Homo sapiens: one gene and its partner. The protein of the gene in region 2 interacts with the protein of the main gene of each other region in a pairwise test. Each region holds a gene or a part of one and is shown on either strand. Other genes may lie near its edges.

The links. Proteins that work in one complex are often made in the same cells at the same time.
Region 1: the proteins of INPP5J (region 2) and EPS8 interact in binary tests that used the Homo sapiens proteins (3 or more experiments, as listed by UniProt).

Annotation. Positions count from the first base shown.
Region 1 is NC_000012.12:15,619,393-15,626,068, forward strand, and holds the end of EPS8 (epidermal growth factor receptor kinase substrate 8), read right to left. Parts: intron 5,016-6,676; coding exon 4,835-5,015; intron 3,896-4,834; coding exon 3,766-3,895; intron 2,039-3,765; coding exon 1,925-2,038; 3' UTR 742-1,924; downstream 1-741. UniProt on the Homo sapiens protein: Signaling adapter that controls various cellular protrusions by regulating actin cytoskeleton dynamics and architecture. Depending on its association with other signal transducers, can regulate different processes.
Region 2 is NC_000022.11:31,117,473-31,126,154, reverse strand, and holds the start of INPP5J (phosphatidylinositol 4,5-bisphosphate 5-phosphatase A), read right to left. Parts: upstream 3,190-8,682; 5' UTR 3,141-3,189; coding exon 3,036-3,140; intron 2,260-3,035; exon of another isoform or gene 2,150-2,259; intron 2,014-2,149; exon of another isoform or gene 1,892-2,013; intron 1,311-1,891; coding exon 145-1,310; intron 1-144. UniProt on the Homo sapiens protein: Inositol 5-phosphatase, which converts inositol 1,4,5-trisphosphate to inositol 1,4-bisphosphate.

The DNA.
Region 1 (6,676 bases), on a different chromosome or scaffold from region 2:
ATGTCTGGATCCAAATTCTGTGGTGCTGCTCCCTCAAGATTCTAAATTCCAGGAACCTCTTCTCTTTGTCCCCACATCCTTAGCTGATGTGACTGCTTTCTGCAATTACTACCTCTGTGATACATTCCTTTGGCATCTTATAGCATAAAGATGTAAATTACACCAATTCTTTTCATATCCGTCTGCTATTTTACACGCAGGTTATCTTAACTTTTGGATCTTATTTTCTTTCATCTTATCCCTTTCAATAAAGGCTAAATTATACATATGTATCAGTCCTTATGAAATGTAAAAGATCTAAACTAATTCACCTTTATCATGCTCATGTTTGTTCCACTTTATCCAAAGGGCAGTGTTATAGAGAGACCGAGAGATAGAAGATGAGAAACTCCCACATCCTTCAGGATCTGGGGAAAATTAGCTTCTAGGAAGCTAAATCTCCTCATCTGTAATAATTCATATAGAGTTGTTGTAAATATCCAGGAAAGCATTTATATGGAAGCATTTAGCAATCGTAAGCGCAGTGTAAATTAGTTCCATTACCATTACCAAATATGACTAGATGGTAGAAGGAAAAGATGATGAAACAAGAGGCGAAAAGAAGAAAAACAACCGAAAAAAGTATTCTAGAGTTTCTCTACCCACTCAGAAATAGAATAATATATAGTTTTTTTAAAATGTGGATCTCTACTTTTTCCCATTGCATTCAACTCGAATCCTCAGCCGATCTAGCACAGATCCTTTTTGCTAATGAGACAGAAACCATTTATTAACAGACAGCAAATACTGTTTATTGCAGACTTTCCAGCTGACTCATGTGAAAAAGGCACTATGAAAATTAATGAATCTAGATAATTTCTCTAAATGATTTATGTTAAAATATACAACATTCTTACATAACATCTGTTTTATATATGTGAAATAATATAACATTTAATGACAAAAATTGTGTTTCCAAAAATAACATTTGTTGAAGGTTAGGTATCTTTCTTTTCTCTATGTGGAATCTTTCACAGGATTAAAATATGTGTAAATTAAGTGCTTCTTATTACCAGAAATACTTGACACAGATAAACACATAAAATGGCCCCACTTCCTTTTAACTACTCATATCAACATTCAGAACTGAGGCTTTCATTAAGCAAAATACTGTAATGCACACCAATGCAGACTACTTCCTTTGCTAGATTTTGAGAAGACATGACCTCTTTCGCATTTGTGCTTTCTCATATATAAGAACACAGTATACATAATAAGCAGAATATAAACTAAATCAAAATACAAGCTATACAAGGAGTTGCAATCAACAGAGCCATGACAAACTCTCTTGAGAATGCTCCATAGATTTATATTTGCATGTCCAAGGTATGGCTGTACTTTACAGTTCATTCAAATGTTTTAATTTTTTTTTAAACTGTTGGCATTAAGAACTTTAAATAAATCTAAATATTCTTCCATTGAGTATGTCAGAGAAGAGACTTAAGTAAGCAGAGGCTAGCCTACAGTGAGCTATGCCCTGAATGACAGACACCATATTCACAGGCAAAATCGAAACTGCTTAGATTTTGAATCATGGACAACATTGTTGCTTTGTTGCAGTGAATAACTCCACCACTATCAAAACAATTCCTGTTTATACCCTGGGATGGGGATAAAATAATTAGTCTAATTAAGGAAACTTCACCTTGGTAAAGTAAGAAAAATATTTTCCAAGGTCAAAAAATTCAGTTTAAATTTTTTCAGTTTTAATAAAAATAATGGGCCTAGAAGCAAATCCTGTGCTCACTCAGGTTTGCATGGGTTTTTTTTTATGGTGATAAATTACATCAAGAAAAATGAATCTGACATTCCCTTCAAGGCTTCTTAAAACAAAGCATGTTGGAATAATGCCAAAAACAATGGAGTTTAAATACAAACAAACAAATTAGTGACTGCTTCCTTCATCAAAAGATTCCACTCCTGAATCACTAGCGGCAGCACTGATTTTTTCCTGTCGTCTTCTCATAATTTCTTGTAACTCGGAGCTGCCACTGCTATCCTGAAAGATAAACAGTTCAGACAAGATAGTTACTGACTTGTGCAGGCTGCAGGTCATATCATGAAATGGCTCAGGATAAAATTCTACTGTGGTTTTCTTCTAGTATCTCTTTAGGAAAGCTAACAGCTCTACTTTTTAAGTGAAGCTTCTGCACTTCACTAATATATCACATTAATAATTTTTCATTTTGTAAAGTCTGTTAAGGCAATTCACTCACCAGGCCTTTCATTTGAACATGATAAAGATAAATCAATAATGTATGTATAGTACTCTAGGTTTGCTGAGAGAAAGAGGAAATGTGTACAATAAGCATAATAACATGGTAAATTATCAAAGGACTCTTTTGGGCTCAAACAAGATACTGATCTGCCTTTAGAAGATTTTAACTCAGGCCAGAGTGGGCTCAGAATTCACCCAGTTTCCCCTCCATATAGTTCTGACCCTCCGACCATGCTGGCTTTTCTCCTTTCCCATCAACAGAAGTCTCTGGCAACACAGGCAAATAATCTAAAAGATTAACTAGATCCAAGGAAAGGGTGAGGTGGTAGAAGGTGGCTGAGGAACATGAAGAACCTCAGGTAGTCAGCCTCTGCCTCAGTTCCCATGCAGAGAATAGGAAGAGAACAAGAAGCAAGAGACCATCCTGAAGTGGGTGGTGACAGCAAATGACAATAATGATAGGCAGGTGTGGGATGAAGGAATTCAGAATTTTAGGAATATGGCATTTTCTAACATACCTTGAAGAAGTAATTATATACTCTCAACAAAATTAAATATAGTGGTAATAAAACTGCTTGAGAAAAATATATAATCCTTATTAATATTCAACATATGGAAAGCAATCAAATCAAACTTTAATATGGAGCCTTCAAGATCAATGTTGTAGGGAAAACCTCCAAGGGAAATATGGTTTCTCTTGATTCAGAATGGCTACGGGGTGATACGCATGAAGTGATTTTACCCTGAATTATTTAACTGTTGAATTTATAGAATATACCTGCTAGAGATGATTATGGATCAATTTCATGCCAAAGCCTACATTCTTTCATTTGAGTCCAAGTATAATTTTCATGAAACTATTAAGAGCTGTGAGATGTAACAGTTGGAAACTACTACCCGTATATAGCACATTTTAAGTCTAAAATAGGATATTGGAAGCTTAAGTATAAAGCAATCTAGAAAACATGACTCTCCTGCTTTCATACAGACCATTGTGATTAAATACTTTTCCAGGCTCTCTATTTTCAGTGATCTCTACCTAATGTATCTTTCCCGATTATTGAGATGTATTACTAGACCTAACACACACAGCCAGGGTTTTACAATCTTATAACCTATACGTTATTAGAATCTCCAAAAAAAAAAAAATATTAAGAATAGGCAAGGATTCTGGCCTCTTAAGGCTCTTACTCACTCAGAAGCTAATTTCCATTGTTATGTCAAAATTAAATTTCCTATAGAATTAGTCAATACATATAAAATGAGAACATTATGCTTTTTGTCAAGTTTCCAAAAGTATGTGCTCAAGCTTCACATCATATGAGCATTTATAACAAATTAACCTTCTGGAAACTGTCATTGATGATCTCAGTGACAAATTTACAAAAGCAGAGTTAAATTTAATTCAGCTCTGTTAAGAAAGGGAAATTGGCCAATATGGACATAAATAGTTGTTTCCAGAGCTTTCAATTTGCAGAAAAACACCACCTTAGGTTGACAAGTCATACCTCCAATGCAGCTTTTTGTACAGTGATTTGGCTATAGACTCTCGCCCCTTCAGGGCAGACTGTCCTCAGTTCATCCTTATTGAGAGAGAAAAGTTGTGCACCATTTAATACTCCAAGACTATTGACAGTCCTAAAAAAAAAAAAAGGAAAAAGAAACTGAGCATTAAAAATATTGCCTACAAACAAAGGAGAAAATTATCTGTTCCTGCTAGTAACTTCTCTTTTCTAAGCGTTCCATACCCTGGAACCCTTATTAAATGCCACTACAGTCTTTATAGTTAGGGCAATGACAAGTTTCTTTCATGATGATGACCCTGAGGCTATACAGATTATTAATTACAAAGTATCAAAAATGAGCCAATTCGGTTTAGGGTCATTGTTTAATACCAATTCTTGGGATTTGGTGTTTTATAGAAGGAATAGATAACTTTCTAGTAACCTGGCAATTGACTAACCATTGTATCTCATTTTTCAATCATGCTGGGTAGGTGAGTTTATAATATGTCAAGGTCCCTTGAATATGTATTATTCTAATAGTTCATTGTGCCAAATACATATGAAATGTTTATAGACTTTTAGATAGATAAATAGAACCTTTACTATGGGTTTATTAAAGGAAAAGTTCTATTAAGATTATAATTGATGCTAGGTAACACTATTTTTTATTTGCCAGAGACACTATATCCTGCAGCAGGAGGAAAGCTTATGCTCTATGTCCTATGTGGTCTAGGAAGTTCAGCTAAGACCATGGTCCTACCTAGGTTACATCACAGTAATCTGATGGAGAAAAGAAGCTACTGGGCCTCAAAGCTGCCAATAGTTTGCTTAAAGAACTAATAATGAACAGATACTACCAATTCGAAAATGGGGTGGCATCAGAATAATTATTTATGCTTATTTTAGTTCTTTTTCAGCTATGAACAGCTATAGTGAGTTCTTGAGTATGGCACAAAGTATGCAGTCTGTGCCCTTATGTTTTATAACAGTTATCTGTGACATCTAACTAAGCAAATTGAAAACAATGCATGTTGTACACACAGAATTGCAAAGTATTCACAGAGAGACTCACACAGGGTTGAATCCCTTTGACTGTAACCACGTCTTCACATCCTCTGGTGTGGAGTCGTAAGTGATATTGATAACTGGCACGTTCTGCCGTGGCACATGGAATTTCTTCTGAGCGGCACTCCGACCAATGGTCAGTCTGTGGATGAGTTCATCTTGCACTTCCTCCATCTGAGATTTCCTTCCTAGACACCAACAGGGAGTAGGTTCTTTTTGAAAATCCCTAATATTACATCACCCTCTCTAGAACCCCAATCTCTATAATCCTTGACCCCAGTAGGACCTACAGTCTAGTGTTCCTACCATCTTTCCTCACTTTTATCCTCGCCTGGTATAAATGCCATGATCAATTATTAAAATAACTCCCTGGCTCTTCTCTAGTCTCTTCATTGTACTCCTTTGGCAAAACCCCAATCCTGGTTAAACCTAACTTTCTGCGTATTCTGTGCCTGCACCTGCACAGCTGAATATAACACAACAATGCTGAATGATCTCATGTTAAATTCATGATTATGAACCTTAACTTGGCTGTTAATGCTTCCTGACAATTATACTACATTTCCTTAGACTGGTGGCTCTCAACTGGGGACAGTTTTGGCCCCAGAGGACATTTGGGAATATCTGGAGACACTTTTGGTCGTCACAATTGAGGGAGAAAAAGGGGAAAGGCTGCTGCTGTCACACAGTGGGTAGAAGCCTGGGATGCACACAACATTCTATAATGTCAGCCTCTCCTACAGCAGAGAATAACCCAGCCTCAAAGGCCAAGAAGTCCTGCCTAAGGTCATGTAACTGCCCACTGTCTTAGACAAGTATTGAATATATTCTACTTTCTCTCTACAAACTTCTAACCCTATTCCCCAATCCTCACCTTGAGCTGATCTCATTTCCTAATTTATGAATAAAATAGTTAGAAGAAAACCTCCGTAAGTTCCTCTAGTAGTTCTTCCTAACAGCACTTTCCCCATATGTTCTGCCTGCCTTCCTATTATGTTATATAAGAGCTGTTTCCCTGCTCCCAAGGCTAACTATCCATGTATGCACTAGGCCTCAAGTTCTCTGCCTATTCAAATACTGAGTCATTTCTCCCTTATTTATCCTGTTATTAATTTTCCTTCTTCACTGAATCAGTTCATCAGCCTGCAAACATGCTATTATTTTATGATTTCTGTTACCTTTAAACAAGTCCTTTTTACCATGTCCTTTCCCAGCTACTGCCCATTTTTCTGCTCCTTTTACAGCAAAGTTCACGAAAAGTTGCCTGTACTAGTGGACTCCAATTCCCATTCTCCTATTTTCTCTTAATGTCGCCGAAATTCAATTTTGCTTTTCCCCCCATCTCTCTACTACACTTTGCTAAACTCCAGCCAATTCTTTCCCAGCTACTATCTTATTTAACCTATCAGCACACATTTGAAGCAGAAGATTCCTCCTTGAAACATTTTCTCCCTGTGGCCTCCAGGATACCACAGTCTCCTCATTTTCCTCCCATGTTTCTGGACTCCCCTTCTCTGGATCCTCTTCTGAATATTCTCATCTCTCCAACTAAGTAATATTAAGGTGCTCTAGGGGACACTCCTGAGACTCATCTCTGCCAGCACTACCTCCATCAATGACCACTGTGCTTAGGTTCATGGCCATTTAAAAGATGATGGTTACCAAATTATTTTTCCAGTCCTCTTACTCGGAACTTGGGTGCATATATGCTGTCTACTTGATATATTCATTTGGGTATTTCTTAAATAGCTCAAATGCATGTCAAATATAGCATGCCCAAACCTGAATTCCCGATCTTCTTCCTGAAGCTTGCTTTTATGAACTCTTAGACTTGCTTTTTAGACTTCTC
Region 2 (8,682 bases):
GTCACAGAGTGGGCCCAGCAACCCCCTCCCCAAAGACTCTTCCTCAGAGAGAGAAGCTGAGGTAGAGCACACCATCCACCCTGGAAGAATGGCTAACCTCAGAGCTAAGCCCCAGCCACCTTTCTTGGGAGAGGGCCCCCTCACCGGAAGCCGGGGTCGCTCTTCCAGGTAGGCTGAGCTGACCAAGGGGAGGATGACAGGGTGGATGTAGAAGAGGAGGTGGTGACTGGGGCTGGGGCTTCTTGGGCCTGAAGGTTGGGGCTCAGGCACCTGCCAGGCCCTGTACTCTGTGTGCCAAGCCTTGGGAGGGCCATGTCAGGGGCTGGGGGAACACAGGGAGAGCGATTCGGGGAGTGGCTTGGGGAACGGCTGGGTGATCGGGGTGGCTTGGGCAGAGGTGGGGGCACAGTCTGGCCTGAGGGGGCCCCAGGCCGGAAGGTGGGGGACAGAAGTCCAGGGGAGTGAGTGCCAGGCTCTGAAGGACCCTGGCCCACATCCAAGGGCAAGGTCTGGGGTGGCCGTGGCAAAACAGGATCCTCAGGGCTGCTGTGGAGGGCCTCAGGCCGGGCTCGGAAGGAGGGGGAGAGCCGAGGGTCTGGGGAGGTTTGGATGCAGGGTGGGGAGCCTGTAGGACCAGATGTCTGAGCTGGAGGCTGGAGATGCCCCTCAGAAGCAGGGAGAGGTCTAGGGGCTGGGGCATCCCTCTTTCTAGCTGATGTCTGTCCCACAGAGGCTGCGCCTGATGCCGTGGATGCTGGAGCCAGGGCCTGTTCCTGAGTTGGAGACAGAACTGGACTGGGCACCGGGGAAGGGGTGGAGGGGAGTTCTGGGGGCTGCTCCTCAGAAGCCAGGGCCAGGCTCAGGCCAGAGGCTGCCAGTGTTGGCTTGGGTCCCACGGAGGCAGGTGGCTCCTGCTTCTGGTCTCTGGAGGTTGGGGCCAGATTGGGCCCCAGGGTGACTGGGGGAGATCTTGGCCCTGCTGAGGCAGGCATCACCAGCCCCAGGGACGTCGGAGCCAGAACTGAGCCTGTGGTCGCTGGGGGAGGCTTTGGTCCAGCTGAGGCAGACATCACCAGCTGGCCCACAGATGTTGGGGCCAGGCTGGAGCTGCGGTGGGCAGTAGCTGTTTTCTGCCCTTCAGGGGTACACAGTGGAGCCAGGATTGGTCGGGGAGATGCCAGAGCCAGCCTCGGTCCTTCCGAGGAAGCTGACATAGCTGCCCGTGGCCCTACAGGTGCCAGAGCCAACCTTGGTTCCGAGGGTCCTAGGGCTGCGTTCTTCTTTGCTGGGAGCTGAAAACTTGAGTCCACCTTGTGGAGGACAAGTCAAAGATTCAGAGTGACCCTAACCAGGGCATTGGGCCCCAACTTCCATATAGACCCTGGCAGAGTTCATCTAGCTAAGAAAGGCACATCTTTCCAAGGAAGTTCTTCCTACTATCTCACTTCAATCTATTCTGCTGCAGGTCAACTTCTGTCTTGGAGGAGATAGGACACAAAACCCTAACCCCTCCTTTAAGTCTGAAACCTCTTTCACAGATGGGGAAACTCAGACCCTGACTCAAATGAGGCAGAGTGTGAACCTAAACCTGAGGACTTGCCTTGCCTTCCTGGCTGGCACCCACACCCTGCCCATTCGGGGCAGCTTCCCTGGGCAACCCTCCCACTGCAGTCCCTGAAGCTCCCCCAGCCACGGCTACTGACCTGACATCCCAGGTCTGGGCACACTGGGGACAGCCTGTTTCTTTTCTTTTTCTATTGTCAAGATACAGACCTACAGGTGCAGCTTGTTAAATACCTCTCCCTTCCTTCATAATGCCCAGAAACCCTCAGTTCCCCACCGCCCCCTAAACATCCAAATCCCTTGGTTACAGCCCTCTCTGTTCTCTTACCCATTCCCAGAGCTCCACTCAGGAGCAAGAGCTGGGAGCTGAGACTGGCTGTGTAGATTCAAAGCCCAGCTCTGTGTGACCTTAGGCAAGTACCTCTCTGCCCAGCGCCTCAGTTTCTCTGTCTGTAAAATGAAGGGATGGGGTCTAGGGTTCCTGGCCACATTATATTCTGGGGAATCTTCATCTCCCATTGTCTGCATTTATGAGCCCAACATTTGCTAGAATTCCATCTAGCCCCGTTGAATAGTCCATCCTCACCAAGTGTGAATCTAGCATTCAGAGCAAGTCCAGGATTCTAAGTTGATCCTGGTGTCACATCTCTCTGTGCCCAGGTTGTGCCCTCTTACATCCTCCACTTTCTCCCCTACCTGAAAGGACAGGCAAGCAGGTATCCCATTTATGTCCGGCAGGTGGGAGGGGTGGGGAGTCACGGAGTCCTGTAGAGACCTATCCTCCTTCCCCATCTATTCTCTCTGATGTCCCCTGTCTCCAGAAGACAGGATAAAGTGTCCTTCACCAAGGAGGGCAGAAGAATGTCTATACTTGCCCCAGGATGGCCCTAGGTAGGGTAACAGGGCGCAGGGAGGCCCTGCCTCTGGAGACGCACTTCTGTTTCTGTCCCGTATCCTTCTCAGTTCAGAGTACCTAAAACTCCATCTCCACCTCCCTTCTCAAACTCAGTTCTTTGAGGTGGCATTTTAGGCACCCTCCTTGGCTCCAAGTGTCACACTGTGTGCCGGCTTCCCCCCAACTATCACACCGCCTCCAGTACTAACAACTTAGCCATCCCAGATGTCACAGTTTTAGTCTTCAGCGACAAGCCCCCTCATTTTGCATTGGCTCAGAGAGGAAAAGCAACTTGGCCAAGGTCACACAGCAAAGGTGGAGCACAGCTGGGTCCTCTGATACCCAGTCCAGGACTCTCCCAAGGGCTCCTGGAGATGGCTAACTTCATCTGTCTCCGGGCATCCTGTCACTGCCCCTCAGCCCCCAGGGTGCTCTCTTCACCTAGCCCCTGCTCGCTGAGCAGAGGAAAGTACCAGCCCCTCAGTCAGGAGCACCAGGGAGCCTGCAGTGTATGTGGGGGGGGTGTGTGGAACCAGGGATCAGGAAAGCGGGGGGCACTGGGTCTCAGGGGTCTTACCTTGGAGGGTGCCCCAGTTTGGGCAACACCCTGGGGCATGGGCAGGGAACCCAGGCCAGCCCGGGTCCCTGGCCTCCTGCTGCCCCTGCTGCTCTGGCCCTCCATGTCTGCAGCCCCCGGCAGCCTGGACTCCCTTGGCTCCGGCTCCAGCTCTACCGCTCCCGGGAACCAGTGATGTCATCAGCCATTTCAACCTGCTGAGAATTTAAAGGCACAGGCTCCCACTTCCCAGCCTGGAAGAGGCCGAAGCAAGGTGGCTACCCCCTGGGAATCCTTCAAACTGGCTGCTGAGGCTGGAACAGCCATGGAGTGGGGAGGGGAGAGTGTACCCATCTGCCTGGCCCAGGTCCCAACTGGCAGCAGGAAGGAGGCTGTCTGTCTACCTTCACCTTTCTGCCGTAGGCCTGGTCAGCCCTTTGCTCCAGGGAGGGGCATTAACACACCTGCCTTAAGGTAGGACAGGTGGTTCAGAGGTCTGCACCCTCTCCAGGGCCTCAGAGACAACTGAGTTCTTGCCCTGATCCTGTGACCTTCCTGGCTCCCTGCCAGCTCAGAGCTTGCCCCGGCCCCCACCCTTGCCCCATTTTCAGGTCTTGGTGCCACCCTCTCCACTCCTACTGCCAGTCCCAGGCTCTATTCTTCCCAACCCAGAACCAGACACTCAGGCTCCAGCCACTGCAGTCTTTTCCCATCTCAGGCCTCAGCACCAGCCCCTCCTCTTCTGCAGACACCTAGCTGCCCTCAGATGTCCCCACAGCCAGGCCTAACCCAGCCCGGCTTCTGTCAGCTTTCTTCTCTCCAGTATTCACTGGGTGTGGTTTGGGAGGGGAACTTGCTCAAGGTCACCTGGTGAACTGAGAAGGTCTCCTGTGTTTCAGTGAGAAAACTTAGTGACCTAGGATGAGCACAAGCCCTTCGAGCTATCTGGGGGAAGGGAACTTGGGTGGAGAAGGGCCCAGCAGTGGGGTAACAGACTGACAAGAGAGTTACAAACAGGCCTGAGAATTGCTACAGCCAGGACCCAGCCCAGGACATGGTCCCCAACAGGCCTACGGGAGTGTTTGTTGAATGAATAAATGAATTAGAAGAGTGAATGGGTGATGAGGGTCAGATTGGGCTGGGATGGCTGTGGGATCTGTTTCTCATGGCTTAGAGAGGAGTGATCCCACCCACTTTAGGCAGAAAGTGTTCAGAGTTGTGTGTGCAGAGCTCCCTGTTAACCAACATGGAGCATCTGCATGGGCCTGTGCAGTCTCCTACATGAAGGCAGATGCCTCACTTTCCTCTCCTGAAGGCACTTCCTACCTCTGCTTGACTGTCAGTAGGTCTAGTCTGTATTCTCAGGCCAGCATCTCTGCTGGAATTTGCAGGGGCAGAGACTCAGGCCATATTAGAGTGTTGGGGTAGAAAGGTCTTTGGACAGCGATAGTGGAGATGGTGACAGTGGTGACGGGGAAGGCGACTGTGGTGATGGATGTGATGATGTATGTAACTGTGATGATGGAAGTAGGGGGCTAGCAGTGGTTGTGGTGAAGGTGGTGGAGGTGATGGTGATGGCAAAGGTAGAGGTGATGATGATACCAATACTGATGATGGTGTTGTGTCAATGAAAGAGGTAGTGTTGGAGTTGGAGGTGACAGTCAGGGAGGATGTGAGAGTAGACCTGGTGGTGATGCTCAGGTTACCAGAAAAAGGAAGATTCGAACTCATCCTGTCTTATCCTCTGTCTCCTGTTTTACAAATAAGAAAATGGGAGCCCCCGGGCTGGGGGAGTACTGGCAAAGTGCGGGTAATCCCAGCACTTTGGGAGGCTGAGGTGGGCAGATCACCTGAGGTCAGGAGTTCGAGACCAGCCTGGTCAACATGGCGAAACCCCATCTCCACTAAAAATATAAAAATGAGCCGGGTGTGGTGGTACATGCCTGTAGTCTCAGCGACTTGGGAGGCTGAGACAGGAGAATTGTTTGAACCTGGGAGGTGGAGGTGGAGGTTGCAATGAGCCAAGATCGTACCACTGCACTCCAGCCTGGGTGACAGAGAGAGGCCCTGTCTCAAAAAAAAAAAAAAAAAGAAAGAAAGAAAAGAAAAAAGAAAAAGAAAATGGGAGCCCCCAAGACTACCCAGCTTTTCATGCAATCCTAGAGGGAATGATGGGCAGATCCAGGCCTCTGGGACCAGTCCTAAGGCTCAGCCATCTAGGGCTGGGACAGGGGCATCAGTGCCCTTTGGAAGCCAGGCAAATGTCATGCAAATGTGTCTGCAGAGGGCTCCTCTGCCTCAGGAGGGCAACCCAGGATTTCCCACCACCCGCTCCCTGAGCTCAGACCCTGCAGGGGACTTTGTTTCTGGCCCTGCCACTGACTTACTTGAGGAGGTCACTCTGATTCCCAATTTGTGTAAGGGAGATTAAAACAGCAGACACCTCCTAAGTTTGCTGGTGAAGATTCAACAGGATAATATATATGAAATGTTTAGCATAGAGCCTGCCTGGCACAGCAAGCTCTCCATAAAGGTGGCTGCTCTGTATTTATCATCATCATCATCACCACCATTGACTTCAGCCTGCCCATGTGGTGGATGCTGAAACAGGCTGAGGGTGGTTACTCTCCTGGGAGGACAAGGAAGGGGCTCTGAGACCCAAGCCTGGTCTTGTCAGGAGAAGGGGGTAGGGGGCGGACCCCAGCTGAAAAGGGAGTGAGTTGGAGCTATATTTGAGCTCCTGGTGTGATGACTAAGGAGGTTGATAACAGGCTCTGGGGCTCAGGGCGGCAGGCTGGGGGCAGCTGTCAGGGAGAACCGCCCCCCTGGAGACGGCTGTCTCTGGAGGCCCTTTCTGGCTCCCTCCTTGCCCTCACTCTTGGTGGGGGAGGGGGGTGGGCGTACTGAGGCAGGGTCCAGGGCTCATCCAGCCCACTCCTGGAAACTCAGTGCTGTCCTTCAGGCTGTGTGGGTCAGGGATAGGAAGGCAGGATGCCAGTGATAGATGGAGTATCCCAGTTACTCTCCATAGTAACCCTGTGAGGTTGGTAATGAGGCCCCCATTGGACAGAGGAAGAAACCGAGGCCCAGGGATTACACAGCCAGTAGAGAGAGGACAGAGCATGGAGCTCCTGGAGAGGCAGTGGATAATTCTTCCCGACAGAGGAGCTGACTGTTGAACCCCTTCTTTGAAGGAGAGTCCGTGCTGCCAAATCGAAGAAGAGAAACGCCCTGGCTGGAAAGCAGAGAGAACAGCAGGTACAAAGCATGGATGGGGAAGGAAGGTTCTGGCTGTGAAAGGATGAGAAATTTGGACATGTACCCTCCTGCCCTTTGGTTCGGAGTAAACATGAGCAGGGAAGGGAGAGAAGTCTTTCCTGTCTTTTTCCTCCTCCTCTTCCTCGGTTCACTTTCCAGGGGCACCTGAGGATGGCAACGGTACCGAGGGTCTGTCCTCCTTCCTTTCTCTCCCTGGTCACCCTGACCCAGGCCCGCCATGAGGGAGGTCATGCTATGGCTACCATCTGCAAAGGTGTAGAGGGTGATACAGGATATTGTGGGAATGTGAAAGAAGGGGTTATCTGGGAGGGCTTCCCTGAGGAGGAAGTATACAGGGCACAAAAGAGCATTTCTTCTCCCAAGGCTTCACTCCAGGGTTTCTTGTTGGTAACAAGCTTCACATGTTATGTCCCCAGCACTTCATTCTCACCCTCTGAGGCAGATGTCATCCTCACTCCCCATTCTGCCACTCAGGAAATGGGCTGGAGGAGGAGGAGTGACTTTCCCAAGGTCACACAGCTGGGGCTGAGCTCAGGCCTCTCTCCTCCTTCTCTTCGGCTCCCCCTCCTCCTAGGCAGCCCAGCACCCGCTGTCAGCTGCTCTGAAGTGAGTGGCTATTTTTATTCTGGTGCGAGGGGATCTCAAGCAGCAGAGCCATGTAGGTTAGAGGCTCTAGGACACCCGGCCTCAGCAGTCCAGGGGAAACTTCCTGCAGCCACCAGACCCTGCTAAGCTTGCCTGGGGGCTCTCATTTCTTGCAGACTGACTTGCTCTGGGCTCCTATGCCTCCAGAAGCTTCTTTATTGGAGCTCAGAACAGAGCATAGAGCCAGATTAAGCCCTGGTCATGGTCCTGATCCTCCAACTTGAACCCGACTCTTGGTATTGACTAAGCCTCTACTCCAGCTCTTGACTGAGCTCTGACATCACCTTAGAATGAACCCTGACTCTAGTCACATACTGATCTAAGCCTGAATTAGGCTGATCCCAACTTGAGACCTTAGTTCTGGGCCCAGATCAAGCCCTTATCCTTCTCTAAGACTGAGCCTTAGTCACAGACTGAATTCTAGCCCCAGCCCAGACTAACCTTTTAGACTGACTCTGGCAGAAGAGTCAGACTAACCTTTTAACCCTGACTCTGGCAGAAGACTGAGCCCTAATCTTGGTCAAAGACTGAGTCCTGAGCCTAATCATTGACTGAACTCTGACCACAGACTGAATTCTGACCCTGGATCATGCAATTCTGGTCACACACTGAGCCCTAAACGGAAGACTGTGCCCTGAATCTGGTCACAGACTGAGCCCTGAACTTAGTCATTGACAGAGACATGACCCTGGTCACAGACTGAGCCTGGCTCCTGGTCACAGACTAAAGACTAAGCCCAATCATGGACTGAGCCCTGTATCTAGCCCTAGGCTACAGACTACTCAACTAAGGGCTGACCTAGACCCTGTCTGAGCCTGACCCCATCACAGACTAATCCCCAACCTTGGCCCCACTTGAGGAAGACTGCTGGCCTAAATTACATGCTGCCACATAAGAGGCATGGATTATGGGCAGAGATCTGTCTTGGGAGATCTTGGGCTTCTCATGCTGCTGATGCCACAGTGTTCCTTCCTGGTACTGTTATGGTCACAGTCTCCACCACTGGTTCCACTGGCTGGTTGGTCAACCCTCAGCAGCCCAAGCTGTGGCCTTTAGGGGCCACAGCATCCAGGCTAATGCAATGAGAGTGGTTTGGTGGCATCTGTCCAGCAAACAACCAGGGCCCATGGGGTACTGGGGTTTGGCTCTGTCAGCAGCAAGAACGACTCCGTGGGGCCTCTGGCTTCAGTTACTCTGAGGCCCTTGCTGGGGTAGGGGTTGGAGTAGAAGGAAATAGTGGGGTATGTCCCATTATTTTCGTAAATAAAGTTTACTGTTTGTGTTTAGGTAATCCATGCCCATTACACAAAACACAGAAGGAAAACATTTACCTATAATTTCATCCACCAAGAAATAATCGTTCTGACTTATTGGTTTGTTTCCTTATAGATATTTTTTGGTGGGGGCGGGGGTCTAGGCATATATATTTATATATACATGTTGTATATAATATGCATATATATTTATATACATGTTGTATATAATATGCATATATATTTATATACATGTATATTTACATATACGTGTTATATATTTTATATAGCTATATCTATTTTTTGAGATGGAGTCTCACTCTGTCGTCCAGGCTGGAGTGCAGTGGCATGATCTCAGCTCACTGAAACCTCCACCTCTGGTCCAAGCAATTCTCCTGCCTCAGCCTCCCGAGTAGCTGGGATTACAGACATGCACCACCATGCCCAGCTAATTTTGTATTTTTAGTAGAGACAGGGTTTTGCCTTGTTGA